Regions from separate parts of the Homo sapiens genome. Here region 1 is linked to region 2. Evidence: fine-mapped expression QTL. Tissue or cell type: whole blood. Region 2 holds a variant in brackets; the other region holds the start of a gene. All regions are shown on one strand. Distances are from middle to middle.

Evidence for each region. PIP is the estimated chance that this variant, and not a neighbour inherited with it, causes the effect.
Region 1: it holds the start of EPSTI1, and the variant in region 2 is fine-mapped to the expression of EPSTI1 in whole blood (TOPMed, PIP above 0.99).

Annotation. Positions count from the first base shown.
Region 1 is chr13:42,988,602-42,996,785 of GRCh38, reverse strand. It overlaps EPSTI1 (epithelial stromal interaction 1), which reads left to right and starts at 4,545. Exons shown (of 11, transcript NM_033255.5): 1 at 4,545-4,808. The coding sequence starts at 4,621. RefSeq lists enhancers at 3,912-4,151, 4,412-4,531.
Region 2 is chr13:42,966,169-42,974,352 of GRCh38, reverse strand. EPSTI1 (epithelial stromal interaction 1) reads left to right here. Exons shown (of 11, transcript NM_033255.5): 2 at 3,683-3,741; 3 at 5,176-5,259. Among named protein-coding and RNA genes, the nearest start is that of EPSTI1, 22 kb to the left of the region's middle. The variant A/G (reference allele first, on the strand shown) is at 3,738.

The DNA.
Region 1 (8,184 bases), 22 kb before region 2:
CCACTGTAGCTCCATGGTATGATGCAAAGAATGATACATGCTTGTCATTCAAAAAATATTTCCTGTACGAACTTATGGTGACTCATAATTGTACCATTTCACAATTCTATGGTAGGATTTGAAGAATTTCACATGGAGTTGTCACAATACAGGTATGCTCAAACACATACATACACACACACACTAAAAATGAGGAGATACCAAATATTCAGAGTTTTACATAACTCCTTTGTTAGAAGAGAAAAAAAAAACCTTTAGATAACTGCTGTCCTAAATCTCTTAGATTAATCTAACTTTCCACTGAAGAATCAAATTTAAGGAAATGTGACTTTTTAGAATTTTCAAAAACTAAGATTTTTTTCATTTACACATTTTATGACAAGAAAAGTCTTAGAGTTTATGTATCTCTCTCTATATTTGTACATATTAATGCAGGAGTAATCTAAGGCAATTAATTTAAAAATCAGACATATATTCCCATTTATTTTCTTGAAAGAAGACACACTTAGACATGTTTGCAGTAAAATAAATTGGTAAAGTTTCTTTTTGATTTAATCTTCTCTCTTAAAGCTCATAGGGCTGGCTAAAATTGCTCATTGTATTTCTGAATTTCCATTCCCCAACAATGCCTCATTTTATGTTTTTCTTTACACAACTTTTGGAATCCTTTTTCTTTTCACTCAGTTCTCCTCTTCCCCAGCCAAAATGTCTTTTGCTCAGATTAAACTCATTTACCAAAAGGAACGAATACATGATTATTTCCCAGAGGCAGTTTCATTTGAAAAGAAAAACATTTCCTAAATGAATCTCTAATTGGCCAAATTTCAGGTAAGGTAACAATCCCACTAGATTTCACTTCTTTCTCATGTCTCTTAAAACATATTCCTAGGTAATTGTCTAGTATGGTGGTTTTTCAAACTTTTAAAAGCCATTGAATTCTTGCCTCAAACAAAATTAGGCAGTGGCCTAGTGAGTAGAAGAGATAAGGGGCTAAAGTACTTGGCTAAATAGGGATAGGGGCCCAGGACCCTCCCCACTCACCTCTGCTTCTCTCCACCAGCCACTACTATAGAAAAACGCACCCAAGAACAACTCCAGTAAAAGGCCAGCCCTTATTTTCGCCCAAATGCACACACCTACGGTGAAAGAATGGATGATACACAAGTAGCCCATTCTCGGGCATCCAAAAGGAGCCTGTAGATGTCTGTTGCCATAATAAATCACATTCACTTTTTTTTGTTGTTGTTGTTGAGACGGAGTCTCGCTCTGTCACCCAGGCCGGAGTGCAGTGGCATGATTTCGGCTCACTGCAAGCTCCGCCTCCCGGGTTCACGCCATTCTCCTGCCTCAGCCTTCGGAATAGCTGGAACTACAGGCGCCCACCACCACGCCCGGCTAATTTTTTGTATTTTTAGTAGAGACAGGGTTTCACCGTATTAGCCAGGATGGTCTCGATCTCCTGACCTCGTGATCCGCCTGCCTCGGCCTCCCAAAGTGCTGGGATTACAGGTGTGAGCCACCGCATCCAGCCTCACATTCACATTTTTTAAAACACTTTGAGAATGTGGCAAAACAAGAAGTGAATGGAGTGAGAAATCTCAGGTAAAACAAGAAGTGAATGGAGTGAGAAATCTCAGGTTTGAAACTTTGGTGTGACATGTGGTTGTGTTGTGAAACAAATATGGTTAACTAAGTATATTCTTGAGGCCAACATCCCTATTACTAGCTCCTTTAGGAGAATCAGTTTTCCCCCAGTGTGGGTTTTCCCTTCCTCAAACTTTAAATTTCATCCAACCACCAAAATAATTTTCTCCTTTGAAACAAGAGTTCCAGGGGTATTTTCCTAGTAAAGAACAATGTGGAAGATGGCCTCCAGAAAGGCCCTGCTGTTCCTCTTTTTTGTTGATCTCTAGGTCTGCGTTTCTCACCCCGCTGGTACCTTACACCCAACAGCACCTAAACAGACTTTTAGAACTTCCCTCAAAGCTTGTCCCTCCTCTAGGTTAATGGTTCTACCTCGTATCCAGTCACAAAGCTAAAAGTCACCATAAAGACAGCAACCATTAAATTACTGGGGCTATAAGGTAGGCATACTGTGAAGATCAGGATTTTTCAACTTCAACACTGTTGACACGTGGGGCAGGACAACTCTTTGTCATGTGGGCCTATTCTGTGCATTGTAGGATGTTTAGGAGCATCCCCGGCCTTTACACACTAGATGCTAGCAGCACCTACCCACTTTGAGGCTTCACAATCAAAAATATGTCCAGGCATTGCCAGATGTCTGCTAGAGGAAAAATCAACTCCATTTGAGAACCACTGATGTGGATGATCTCTATTCCTCACAATACCCACATGAGGCAGAGGAGGAAACTGGATCTCTGAGGAATTAAGAGATTTGGCCTTGGTTGTGTGGCCAGTATGTGGCAAAGCTGGTCTCAAAGCACTATAAAAGCCATCTCCCCTTCTCTCTGCTGCCTTCCAGTACTCAATTCTCTCTTTCATCTAGTTTTTATCTATGCTAATCTCTCATGTGAAATGTCTTTTATGTTTTATTTATTTGTTTTGTAGAGATGAGGTCTTACCATGCTGCCCAGGCTGGCCTTAAACTCCTGGCCTCAGGTGATCCTCCTGCCTCAGCCTCCAAAAGTGCTGGGATTACAGGCATGAGCAACTGAGCCTGGCCCATGTGAAATGTCTTGATTTTGCTCCCCACTTTCTGGGTTGCCTTAGCTCAGATCTGTATTTCTTACCTAGACGTAACTAGGCTCTGAATTTATCTTCCCGATTTCAGTCTCTTCATCTTTCAATCTCCGTTTTCACATTGTTAGAAGCTAACTTTGTAAAACAGATATTATTGAGTAACTGCCCTATTGAAAAACTTCCTGTGCCTTCCACATTGCCTACAACAGTGGTTCCCAAAGGGTGATCCTGAGACTGGCATCATTGGTATCACCTGGAAATTTGTTAGAAATGCAAATCCTTGGGCCCCATCCCAGACCTGAATCAGAAACTATATATATATATTTTTGAGATGGAGTCTCTCTCTGTCGCCCAGGTGGAGGTGGGGTTTCGCCACGTTGGCTAGGCTGGTCTTCAACTCCTGATCTCCAGGTAATCCTCCTGCCTCGGCCTCCAAAAGTACTGGAATTACAGGAGTGAGCCACCGTGCCTGGCCATAAATCTGTTTTAACGCACCCTCCTCCAAGTGGTTCTGATGCTTACTGAAATTTGTGAAACTCTGGCCTACTCTACAAAACCCTAATGTCTTAGGATGGCATAGAAATCCTGACTGACTTTCCTACCATGTTCCTTGTCATTATTTTCTCCTCTCCTGTCCCACCCTGGCCCACCCTTCAATTTCATTCTTTCATTAGCTATCAAACCTGTATGTGTCTTTTTGTTCTAAGCACCAATAATATAAGGAAGACAGTCCAGCTCCTAACTGTCTTGCTGACCTAGGACTGGGGTGCTCCAGCCACATGACAACCCCTGGAATTAAGTACACACCATGTCATTTTAAGTGACAAGCCTCTGCCATAGCATCTCCTTCTTCTTGGTGAATTCCTATGTCTTTGGTGGCTCATTCTCAAATGTCCCTGTTCCTGAATTACTCAGAGGGCTAATCCCCAGTTTCTCTGTGCCTCCACAGCTGCCTGTCATTTCATTTATCCCAAAGTGGCATTCCCATTTGTTTACCTGTCTACTAGGATACTCCTAGAATGCAGGTAGCATGAGGGAAGAGCCTTCACTCATCTTTGTGTAGACGGCATTGTGACCCTGGTGACCAACCCTGGCACACATCAGAATCATCTGGGAGCTTTTCAAAAATATGAATGCCAGAGCTCACCCCTGAACCTACAGGAACTGAGCCTTACACATCCATATTTTAAAATGTCCCCACATCACCGTTGCACACTGTTCTGCACAGAGCAGGTATTTTTAATAGTTCTCGAATGTCTAGTCAATTACTTAGCAAGGCTGCCTGGAGAATCATGTCTACCTTAGCTTACTTCTCCGGCTTTGTAGGTTTTTGTTTTCTTTTGATTTCAGTTTCCATTTCCTCTAACTTGAAAGTATGTGCATTGGTAACAGCCACACAGCAGTCATTACTGATAAAAGGCGACATTTTGTTGAGATGATTTTAGTTATTGACCTAATCTCTGGTATTTTAAGGTTAATATATTTTTTACAGTCTCAAATATCCAGCGGTAACCTCAAATTAGAGTTGCCTGTTAAACAGTTTCTCAAGTATCTTTCAGGATTGTAGTCACTCTGCGGGCTAATCGCTCACCAGGTGTCCGTGGCTGATCCCAGTTATTCTGATTAACCTCTAAGGTGATTGTGAGACTTTAAACCGTCTCACCTGTAGCCGACCAAGCCAGCTCAAGTCAACATCCTGGGCTGTTAACCCGCGATAAGGTCGGACGGGGCCTCAGTGGAGAATACGTGGGGAAGTTCTCTGGGGCGGGCGCAGTCTGCTGCTGATTCTGAGAAACCGAAACTCAGCTGTTAAAACCGCTGCCTCTGCACTTTGGAATCCCATCTTGAGACTCGCTAAGCGTCCCAGCCGCATCCCTCCCGCAGCGACGGCGGCCCGGGACCCGCGGGCTGTGAACCATGAACACCCGCAATAGAGTGGTGAACTCCGGGCTCGGCGCCTCCCCTGCCTCCCGCCCGACCCGGGATCCCCAGGACCCTTCTGGGCGGCAAGGGGAGCTGAGCCCCGTGGAAGACCAGAGAGAGGGTTTGGAGGCAGCCCCTAAGGGCCCTTCGCGGGAGAGCGTCGTGCACGCGGGCCAGAGGCGGTGAGTATTTTAACAACCTGGCTTCGGGGCGGGAGCCCGGGCCCCAAACATACTCACTCACAAGCACCTTGGTCCTTGGAGTTTAAAACCACAGGGGCCCAACAACAGGGATTTTGACTGAATGAAAGCTCATTTGCTTAAATGAAAGTATCCATGCCGCACCTTATAAATTGAGTCGGCTAGTTTGCAGTCCTTTGGTAAATAACCAGCCCGGTTCCTTCCAGGAATACTACTTTCCTGATTTTTGTGACTGGCTACAGGATTGAAAGATATGGGTGTGTCGGAACTGCCTAGGCATCCAGTAAGATGTCATTTTCCAGGTATCTCCAGAACTCATACTCCAACCAGTATGGAAATAACTTTTCCCTTACTGTTTTTAAAAATTTGGTGCTGGGCCAGGCGCGTTGGCTCAAGCCTGTTATCCCAGCACTTTGGGAGGCCAAGGCAGGCAGATCACCTGAGGTCAGGAGTTCGAAACCAGCCTGGCCAACATGGTGAAACCCAGTCTTTACTAAAAATAAAAAATAAGCTGGGTGTGATGGCACGTGCCTGTAGTCCCAGCTACCTGGGAGGCTGAGGTAGGAGAATCGCTTGAACCCGGGAGGCGGAGGTTGCAGTGAGCGGAAATTGCGCCATTGCACTCCAGCCTGGGCAACAGAGCGAGACTGTCTCAAAACAAAACAAAACAGAAAAACAAAACTTGGTGTCCTAAACGGAATTACTGTATCAGACACTAACAGGTAAGGGTCAACAAGAAATGTGATATGGGGTAGAAGGTTCAAATTCTGCCTCTAGGTAGGAGCAAGCCTACGTCCCAGCAAGACTCGCAGATAAACTAGCCTCTTACAACCAGAGGAGTGGAGCTGAGAGAGTGAGGAGGTGAGTGACCATAGTACCTCTCATCCCTGATGTTGATATGTGCTCTATGCAGGAACAGATAGGTAGCTTTTATTCCTGGTCTTTGGTTCAGGGACTGCAGTGAGTATCCGGGAAACATTTATTAAGCAAGTGTCATGAGCCTCTCTTTCTAGCCAATGGAATGAACTTTAACTCAACAGTATGGTTTATCACAACATCACTGCCTTTGAAGTGCTGCCTCTGTGAATTGGAACTGTCCAGATGGTTTTATTTTTAGTCTCTCCTTTTTCATCGACTTCTAGTCTCTGAAAGACAAACCCTGGTTGCTAAGAAACAGTATATAACCTTATGGCCGATAAACAGTAGATTTTCTTTCATCCCTTAGCTTTTGGAAAGTACCAGGCCTTTAATATTATTATTTAGCTTAGGTTTACCCTTAGATGGGGTGGATAATCTGGAAATCAATTAGAGATTGTTGCATTTCTTTCCTCCTCAGAATAATTAGTGTCTCGCCACAGTAGAAGCAGCCAATTACTTTCAAGTAACCCACGTATCTACAAGCTATAGTACTTAACAGTAACAAAGGTCACAGACATATGGTCTCGTGTCCATGAATAGTTAACGATGAACATGATTTGCATGACTTTTTTCTGTTAAAAAGCATTTATTTAGATACAACCATTTATTTCTAAGCTCATATCATCGCATAAGTATTAACTGTTGCATCTGTTTTCTTATTTGGTTGTAATTACCCTGGAATCTTGCCAGATCAAATTGCTCAGAAAGAGGCAGCTTTCTGATGGGTTATCCAGGCCTTAATACCCTGAAGAGCTCACTGTACACTATTTTGCGATTCCTGAAAAGATTTTCAAATGAACCATTAAAAAAATACCAGGAAGTGTTTAGTTATCTCTCACAGAGTCTTCCTTTTTTTTTTTTTTTTTCCTCATGTGAACCAGTTGCAGTAAGTACAGAATTATATATTCCCTTTTAGGGGTTTGATGTCTGAGATCCTGTTGGGATGACTTTGAATTTTTGTTGCATCTCCATTAGTTACTTAGATTCACTTTCTCACTTGTTTCCTTTAATGAAGTTGGAAAACCAAGGAAAATGAATGGCAAATATCTCAGTAGAATTAGCTGCCTACCCGCTGCCCCAAAATAAAGAAGGCTTTATTTATTTTGGGGATAAAAATTAGAAACACTTTCTGATTTAAAAAAATGAAGAGGCCGGGCATGGTGTCTCACGCCTGTAATCCCAGCACTTTGGGAGGCCGAGGAGGGCGGATCACGAGGTCAGGAGATGGAGACCATCCTGGCTAACACAGTGAAACCCCGTCTCTACTAAAAATACAAAAAATTAGCTGGGCATGGTGGCAGGCGCCTGTAGTCCCAGCTACTTGGGAGGCTGAGGCAGGAGAATGGCGTGAACCCGGGAGGCAGAGCTTGCAGTGAGCCGAGATCGCGCCACTACACTCCAGCCTGGGCGACAGAGTGAGACTCTGTCTCAAAAACAAAACAAAACAAAACAAAAAGCAAAAAAAAAAAAAAAAGAAAAAAGAGGATAAAGTGCTTTAATAGTACAGTTTCATTTGTCCACTCATAATGTGAATTTATTTATATGGTAAAAGATTTGTCTTGTTTTGTGGGAATCCTTCCATTAATTTCCTCCTGCAGCCCCAGTGTGGGGATTAGGAATATGGGCTCTGATGCTGGGTAGACCTGGGTTCAAGTTCTGATTATGCCATCACTTGCTCTTTGAACAAAATCCTTAGCTACTTTATGCCTCAGTTTCCTCATTACTTAATATAAGACAATACCAACTTCATAGGGTTTTAATTTTTCCACGTGTATATGTGTAAAACATAACTTTATTCCTGGTAAAGTACTATGCTGTCACCCTTAAGTCGAATGTTTGTGCCTTGTTAAAAAAAAACACTGGTTTAAAACACCTACTTGTGGTCGGGCGCAGGGGCTTGTGCCTGTAACCTCAGCACTTTGGAAAGCCAATGTGGGAGGATTGCTTTAGTCCAGGAGTAACATAGGGAGTCCCTTGTCTCTCCAAAAAAAAAAAAAAAAAAAAAAAAATTTAAATTATCTGGGCACGGTGGCACATACCTCTGTCCCAGCTACTCAAGAGGCTGAGGCAGGAGGATAGCTTGAGCTCAGGAGCTCCAAGACTACAGTGAGCTGTGATTGTACCACTGTACTCCAGCCTGGGCAACAGAGTGAGACCCTGTCTCAAATAAATAAATAAATAAATAAATAAACCACCTATTTGCATAGAAAGAAAGTATACTAGTAAAAATCTGTGGCTATCAATATATTAAATTATTCTGAGTACCTCTGATAGACTCTCAGACAAGATTGAGTTCTTTTTTTTTTTTTTTGAGACAGAGTCTCGCTCTGTCGCTCAGGCTGGAGTGCAACAGCGCAATCTCAGCTCACCACAACCTCTGCCTCCCGTGTTCAAGCGACTCCTCTGCCTCAGCCTCCTGAGCAGCTGGTACCACAGGCAC
Region 2 (8,184 bases):
CTTTTTCTTTTTTTTTGAGACAGAGTTTCACTGTTATCGGCCAGGCTGGAGTGCAGTGGCATGATCGCAGCTCACTGCAACCTCTGCCCCCTGGGATCAAGCGATTCTCCTGCCTCAGCATCCCGAGTAGCTGGGATTACAGGCGTGTGCTATCACACCCGGCTAATTTTTGTATTTTTAGTAGAGACAGGGTTTTACCATGTTGGCCAGGCTGGTCTTGAACTCCTGACCTCAAGTGATCCACCCGCCTCAGCCCCCCAAAGTGCTGAGATTACAGGCATGAGCCACCGCGCTTGGCCAAACATTTCTTGAATATCTTTTTATTTTATGTTTCTTATGGTGCAGAAAAACATTTTATCTTGTCTGTTCTTTCATATATTCTCCCTCAGTATATCTCACGGATGTGCGCTGTTGGAAAGTGAAAATAATCTTACAAATTGAGATCTTTCATTAAATTTCAATGAGGTAATTAAGGAGACTCATTTTCAAATATATATATTTATTTCAGTGGCTTGAATGTTGCTTAATCAGGAAATGACAAGAATGCGAAATGTTGGTTGTTGGGCTTGTCTAGATTAGCAACTTTGAGAGTCAGGCTGTTGGAAGAGATAGCACATAGGTTAAAACAGCAAAGGCCTTTGCTGTGGGTACAAACTAATTGGCTGAAAACATTAATAAATTATACTTGCTCTTCATGTCAAGAGAAAGCTAAGAAAGAAGGGATGAATATTTGTATCTACTAAGGCATTACACTCTGACACATGATATTAAAAAATAAAAAGCATATCCTTTGACTTAAGCTCTTCTTCTTATATTAAGAAATAGAAATAGAAGCTAAGTTCCTTACCATTTACTTGGCAATGCTTTCTTGGGACTATTATAACATGTTTCAGATTTGGCATTTTCAGTCAATAAAATATTGCTGAGAAGGTTGCTGAGCAATTCACATAAAATTTACATAAAACGTTTATTACTGGGACCACTGCCTGGGTTTATGCTAAAATGCTTTCAGTAAAAACCCTCTAAATTCAGAGCTAATTCTTTCCCTTTATTTTATGTTTCTCTATTAGGTACCTGTAAGCTACACACATTGGCCATAGATTGACTGAAGTCCTATTCTTAAGATGGAAGATTCTAGTATGATGTCGGACTTAAAAACTTAACCAGATTAGATATTGTAGAATACAATCTTTTACAAATGAGTTGATTTTTCTCTCCAAACCTTTTGCAAAATTTCCGTAAGAGAGACTCATGGACTTGGAAAATTCTCTGTGAAGCTGCTTTTGGCAAAGTCCTGGCAAAGAAACACTTTTGCTATTTCAGATCCTATTCTTTAAGCCTCAACTTACTATTCTTATTTCGTGCTATTCAGTTTTTTACTCTTCTGAGGTCTCTATGAATCTCCACTGTTTTGGATCTCTGAGTACTTACATCATTCCCACTTTAAGACTTGTTTGGGTATTCTTTTTTAATTTATTTTTTATTTATTTATTTTTGTTTTTTTCCCCATCCAGAACTCATGTTGAGTGGTTGGATATTCTCGTGGGGTGCTTTTGTGGTTTCTTGACTTGTTCCTAACTAAAGTGTAAGTTCTGTTAAAGTGATTAGTATCCCTGTTCTGGAATCTCCCCTCACTCTCTACAAGCCCCTAATACAATAAATCCATAATAAGTGCCCAGTTAAGTAGGTTGCATTGTTTGGAAGTCTATCAAGGGACTAAAGTTAAAGGATGGTCATATTTTATGCTTTGCACATTGAGTTGAAAAGTTAGCTGCAGACAGAAAACTGATCTAAGTCAAAAGTCTTAGACTGGAGTCTCATCAGTGTTGCTCAATTGACCTGGTGATCTTTGGCCTGAGATTCAACCTCTGTGTCTTTACCAGTGATTTATGAATACCTAAGTTTTCTTTTATCCCAAATGTTCTAAGATAGCTTGATTGCTCTATAGTAGTGGTTTTCCAAGTGTGGTACCTAGATCAAGAACAGCATCATCTTGGAACTTGTTAAAAATGTAAGTTATTTGACCCAGTCGCAGGCTACTGAATTAGAAACTCTCAAGCTCGCGGACAAGCCCTCCTGGTGATTATGATGCACGATAAAGGCTGAGAACTACTGATCTGGAGTATAGTCAAATTTGTGGTATAGAGAGAAGCTCTATACCACAATGTTAGCAGACATTGAAGATTGTGTAGCAATTTCATGATTGGCATTTACGTCTCGTATCTGATGTTTCAGCTTTCAGTCTCTGTAGCATGGCTCACCATTGCATCATATTCAAGTTTCCAGGGACTACCCACGGGATTGTAGCTTCCAAGCTCCTAAAAAGTACTGGCAATTCAGAAGTGAAAAATGTTTCTTAGGGTGTACAAAGAATGTGCAATGGACAAGGGATTAATTGCCAGTGGCAGTCTCCTAATTTTGTATTCATAACGTTGTATGCATGCTAGGCTACACATGCAACGTCTGCTGATATACATTAAGTAATTGGGCATCCAGCAGCCCCATTTGCATGCAAAGGCTGTTGCACACCTCACATTTACAAGTCTAAAATTAAAGCCCAGTTTGAAGCTGGCTGAAGGCTAGCTGCTAGAAAAATAATGAGATAAGGAAGGAAATGGCTTCTGTTGATCAGTGCTTTTGGCCTCTACAGTTCAATCTTTGCTAATTTGCCCTTTGAAATTGTGTATTCAGGTAGAAGAGAGAGACTTCCAAGAGTATCTGGGTGGGGTTTTTTCCCTCCCTCTTAAATCCTACAGTTAGAAGCTGGTTGTGTTTATCCACAGCATTTCTCTTAAAACTGTACCTACATGTATGCTGCAGTCTGTTGCTGTGCTATATTATTGCTTAATGGAGTATTCATGTTCTTGTGGGATCACGTGCATCATCTCAAAAAAGAGCCACCCCCACACAGACTCACAGGCTGGGTCTGTAGCATCATTTTGTTTTAATTCAGCCCACATTTATCAAGCAGCCAATGTCTTTGTGCCAGACACTGTGCCAGGGGCTTGGAATACACATCAATCAAGCACACTCTCTGCCCTCAAAAGCTCACAATATTTTAACAGCTTCCTAGTGTCACAGAGGTGAATATTTTTCTTAAAAAGTCTTCCCTGATCCGCCTGGTTGAAATGACTCCTTGCTTCTCCGAGCCCCTGATTATGCTCAACCTGTGTCCCTAGGAGAAGAAGAGACCAGTGGACATAGGCCTAGAAAAGTCAAAGCCTAAAAGCCAGTTAGTTACTCAGATCATCAAGAGGAGGTGGCTGCATTGCAAATGGCCTCTAGGATCAGTCTGTGGGAACAGAAAATGTACCAATGTTTCCTGTACCCCGGTGTGGTCACACAGAAGAGAATGCCAATCTAAAGCCATCTTAAAGGAATTTACTCACAAGCACCACCTAGAGGAACGGTGGAGCCCTACAAGGACAGTACACCAACTAGTCACTTGTCACTCATCGAATGCTTTATATTTTCATATTTGGCCATGTCCTTTGTTTTACTTTGACATCAAGATTGTGAGGTCCCAGAGAACAGATCAGGGTCTTAAGAAGATTATCTTTCATAGTGCCTATTTGATGGTAATGATCATAAATACAGTATAATAGAAGGAAAAATATCTGGTGGCTTATATGCATTGGTAGTTTCTCATGGTAATAAGCATTTTTTTTTCTCTTCCTTTTAGCACAAGTGCATACACCTTGATAGCACCAAATATAAACCGGAGAAATGAGATACAA[A/G]GAAGTATGTATAGTCATTCATTTAACATTCAGAATGCTTCTCTCTTTTTACAATTGGTTTGTTTTGGTGTGAAGTATTTTTATTTTCTCATTTATATAGACTCACCAAATCTCATCAAGGTTTTTTGTTTTTTTTAGTTTTGATTATACCTTTAAAAATATTCTACTATTAACACTTCTAAGTTTGTTTCTCTACGTTAGTAACAGAACTCATGACATGATGGTAGATCCTGGATTTCTGTTGGCTTGAACAACTTTACACTTATTGCCAATAAACCTCCTTGAGGGTAGGGACCACATCTTACTCGTTTTTGTGCTCTCTGTACTTAATGCGTACATAACATGTTTAATTGATGTACAGTAAATATAAATGCTGCCATTTAAAGTTATAGCATTATCCTTTAGAGGTGGAAGAGAACTAAAGTTCATTTAGTTCACAAAGAAATTGTAGGCTTGCTCAAGTCCAGCTGTGGGGCTATGCTGAAATTCGATGGTCTCCTTTATTACATGATTGGTAGGAAATTTAACTTCATGACTAATGATGGACAGAAAGGCACAAAAGGGAAAAAGCTCTCTAAAGAGTCTCCACCGGACATGTAGCTCCGGGTGGGACAGCGGGTCAGTGCAGAATATGACAATCACAGCCATGCAGGGACTATGGGAACTGCCAGCAGTTCTGGTATCTTACAAGCTTTTGATTTAAATACTTAATAGGAGATTAAGTCTCAATGTGGTCTGGATTTCGAAATGTTTCAGAATTTGTTTTTCTAGTAATGGACATTTGAAACAGGTCTCATGAGGAGATAAGGGGAGGCGCTGGAGTGACAGAACTAATTTCTCTCTGGCGCCCCCTGCTGTCGTGCAGAGTGAACATTTAGGAAATGAGCCCTGCTCCCCAGGAAGCCGACTCTGCACAGTGGTCTGGAGTGCCTGAAACCAGAGCAAGGGTCTCCACCTGTAGCACCGAGCCCTCATTCCCTAGAGTCGCAGTAAGCTTGGGAGCATTGAAGATAAAGCGAGTATGGGCATCAGAATTCTCTGGGGATATGTTTACCTATGTGTGGAAAGTTCTTATTGACGTGAAAATATTCTAGTTTTGCACACATTTTCTATAGGTAACTTTAAAAATTAACTTGATATAGAGTTTTAAAAATGCCAGAATGGTAGGAAAATCTATACTTCTTTTAGTAGGAGCCCAGGTGGTTTTTCAAATTCGAACCCTCTGTGCTGACTCTTGGTGAGAATGTGCCACAGGGCCGGGCCCAGGATGACCTGTACGGGTCAGGGCTGAATATTGTGTTTCTAACCTGGAAGCCTTGTTCACTCATGCTCACATATAGTTAATTGCCTTCTAATAGTTGTTTCTTATGCTTTGAAGGGACTGGTTTTCTTTTAGAAGTCTAATAATTGACGATTTGATATTTCTCGCCTGGCTTAGTTGCGGAGCAGGAGCTGGCCAACCTGGAGAAGTGGAAGGAGCAGAACAGAGCTAAACCGGTTCACCTGGTGCCCAGACGGCTAGGTAAGCAAGCACAGCCGCTGCCGGAATGAGGGAGGGCGGGGCCACCTATGGATCCTGTAAGCAGCTTGCATATGTCTGTCTGTGAATGTCCATTGTAGTTTGTTTGGTCATTGTGCTGCTTGGGTGGAATGCATTTAATTGTGTGTGTGTGTGTGTGTGTGTGTGTGTGTGTATTTTTTTTTTTTTCTGATTTTCTGCAAGTAGCAAACCTGTAATGCCAGAGTTCTATGGGAACACAGTGATGGCTTAATTGCCAAATAATTTAGAGCCTCTTAGATGATTGACTCTGAAAAAGCTTACCTGGGGCGCTGCATATGCCCTGTCATAGCACTAGTCAGGATGGGAGTAAATGCTGGCACAAGCATATTAATCATGGCAGTTAAATGTTAATCTGAAGAAAAGGAGTGGAGAGTCAGTTCCAAGAGGGAGATGAGAGTGAGCTGGAAACCCGGTGGTGGGTATAAGAGAAACATCACCTGTGTTTTTATTCTACAGATAGAGACCTCTGGGCCTCTGGAGCAGGTGCTGCCAGTGTGATGAATTGTCTGGGCCGCCTTTGCCGGTGTTTGAATCATTCAGAAGGGATGCCACCTAATGGGAATCATTCACATCTTTTCTTTGCTTTTTCTCTTCTATCAGCAGCCGAAAATTTAAAGGGTTGGACACACAGTGTCCACAGATTTAGTTAATACAAGCATGTCTTGTGTCAGGGGCCACTTACGGTTGTGATAGTTTTAGAGAAGTTCCCTCCCCACACCCTGCCCCCCCACCAAGAACATAGGTAAAAATAATCTAATTTGGAAATTATTTAATGGGAGGAAGTAATAGTAATATTATCATCATCCCACTGTATTTCGTGAAAAGGGCTAATCTCAAGTGCCTCCTTTGTGCAAATGAGCCAGACTCGAAGGGTACAATCAGAAAACAGCTTTAATCTTTCCTAGCTTGGCCCCTGAGATTGGCTATGTGAGAACAGTCTTTCTCAGGCTTTTTGGATGATGTAAGAAATTAAAGCTTTTTGGTCTCTTTCAAACAGTAGAGTGACCTAGCTAATTCTAGGCCTAAAACAGTCTCATTTCAGTAATTAATGTTCAGTCTTAGGTACTGATCAAAATTCTGTTACTAATGGAGATGAGAGCTTCTCCCCTGCTCTAACCCAGGCCTGTTTCAGGTAGGAATCCAGCAAGTAGAACAGGGTGTGGCTGGACTTTTCTCTATTCATGGCTCTGTTCCCAGATTCTGACCTTTCTGGGATTGAAGGGGGAAGTGGAGGGAGATAAGAGAGTTCGGGGTTCGTAATGCAGTGATCCTTGTTTCTTTGAGCCTAGGTTTACACTGACTGCTCGTTCTTCTTCCTGGGAATCTTCGAGTTTTTCAGCATCCCCCACTCTCTGCTACCCATCTCCCACCTGGATTTCCCTGATACAGACGATTTCCTCTCCTGTCGGCAGGGCTTGGCCTCACTGTTGGCTCTTGGTAGACTCCTTTTAGGGTTCCATTGTTCTTGACATGGCCCTCATAGGCAAGTCCCTTTAGATGGCTTTAGGTTGGCATTCTCTTTCATGAGAATCACATTAAAAGTACAGGAAATACTTGTGCATTCTTTCTTTTCATAAACTGTGAATGTGGGCCATTTGTAATGTAGCTACCTCTTCTTGAGGACTCATCTCAGTGGCCAATGGACAACAGCCTTATACCTTTAGGCTCTAACTGTTCTAGGCATGAATCCAATAAGACCCTCAGACTCTTAAAAATGCAGGTTGAGGTCTCCAGCTGATTTTCTTTTTTTTTTTTTTTTTTTTTTAATTTATTTTTTTATTGATAATTCTTGGGTGTTTCTCACAGAGGGGGATTTGGCAGGGTCATGGGACAATAGTGGAGGGAAGGTCAGCAGATAAACAAGTGAACAAAGGTCTCTGGTTTTCCTAGGCAGAGGACCCTGCGGCCTTCCGCAGTGTTTGTGTCCCTGATTACTTGAGATTAGGGATTGGTGATGACTCTTAACGAGCATGCTGCCTTCAAGCATCTGTTTAACAAAGCACATCTTGCACCGCCCTTAATCCATTTAACCCTGAGTGGACACAGCACATGTTTCAGGGAGCACAGGGTTGGGGGTAAGGTCACAGATCAACAGGATTCCCAAGGCAGAGGAATTTTTCTTAGTGCAGAACAAAATGAAAAGTCTCCCATGTCTACTTCTTTCTACACAGACACGGCAACCATCCGATTTCTCAATCTTTTCCCCACCTTTCCCGCCTTTCTATTCCACAAAGCCGCCATTGTCATCCTGGCCCGTTCTCAATGAGCTGTTGGGCACACCTCCCAGACGGGGTGGTGGCCGGGCGGAGGCGCCCCTCACCTCCCGGACGGGGCGGCTGGCCGGGCGGGGGGCTGACCCCCCCACCTCCCTCCCGGCCGGGGTGGCTGCCGGGCGGAGACGCTCCTTACTTCCCAGATGGGGTGGCTGCCGGGCGGAGAGGCTCCTCACTTCTCAGACGGGGCAGCTGCCGGGCGGAGGGGCTCCTCACTTCTCAGACGGGGCGGTTGCCAGGCAGAGGGTCTCCTCACTTCTCAGACGGGGCGGCCGGGCAGAGACGCTCCTCACCTCCCAGACGGGGTCTCGGCCGGGCAGAGGCGCTCCTCACATCCCAGATGGGGCGGCGGGGCAGAGGCGCTCCCCACATTTCAGACGATGGGCGGCCGGGCAGAGACGCTCCTCACTTCCTAAATGTGATGGCGGCTGGGAAGAGGCGCTCCTCACTTCCTAGATGGGATGGCGGCCGGGCGGAGATGCTCCTCACTTTCCAGACTGGGCAGCCAGGCAGAGGGGCTCCTCACATCCCAGACGATGGGCGGCCAGGCAGAGACACTCCTCACTTCCCAGACGGGGTGGCGGCCGGGCAGAGGCTGCAATCTCGGCACTTT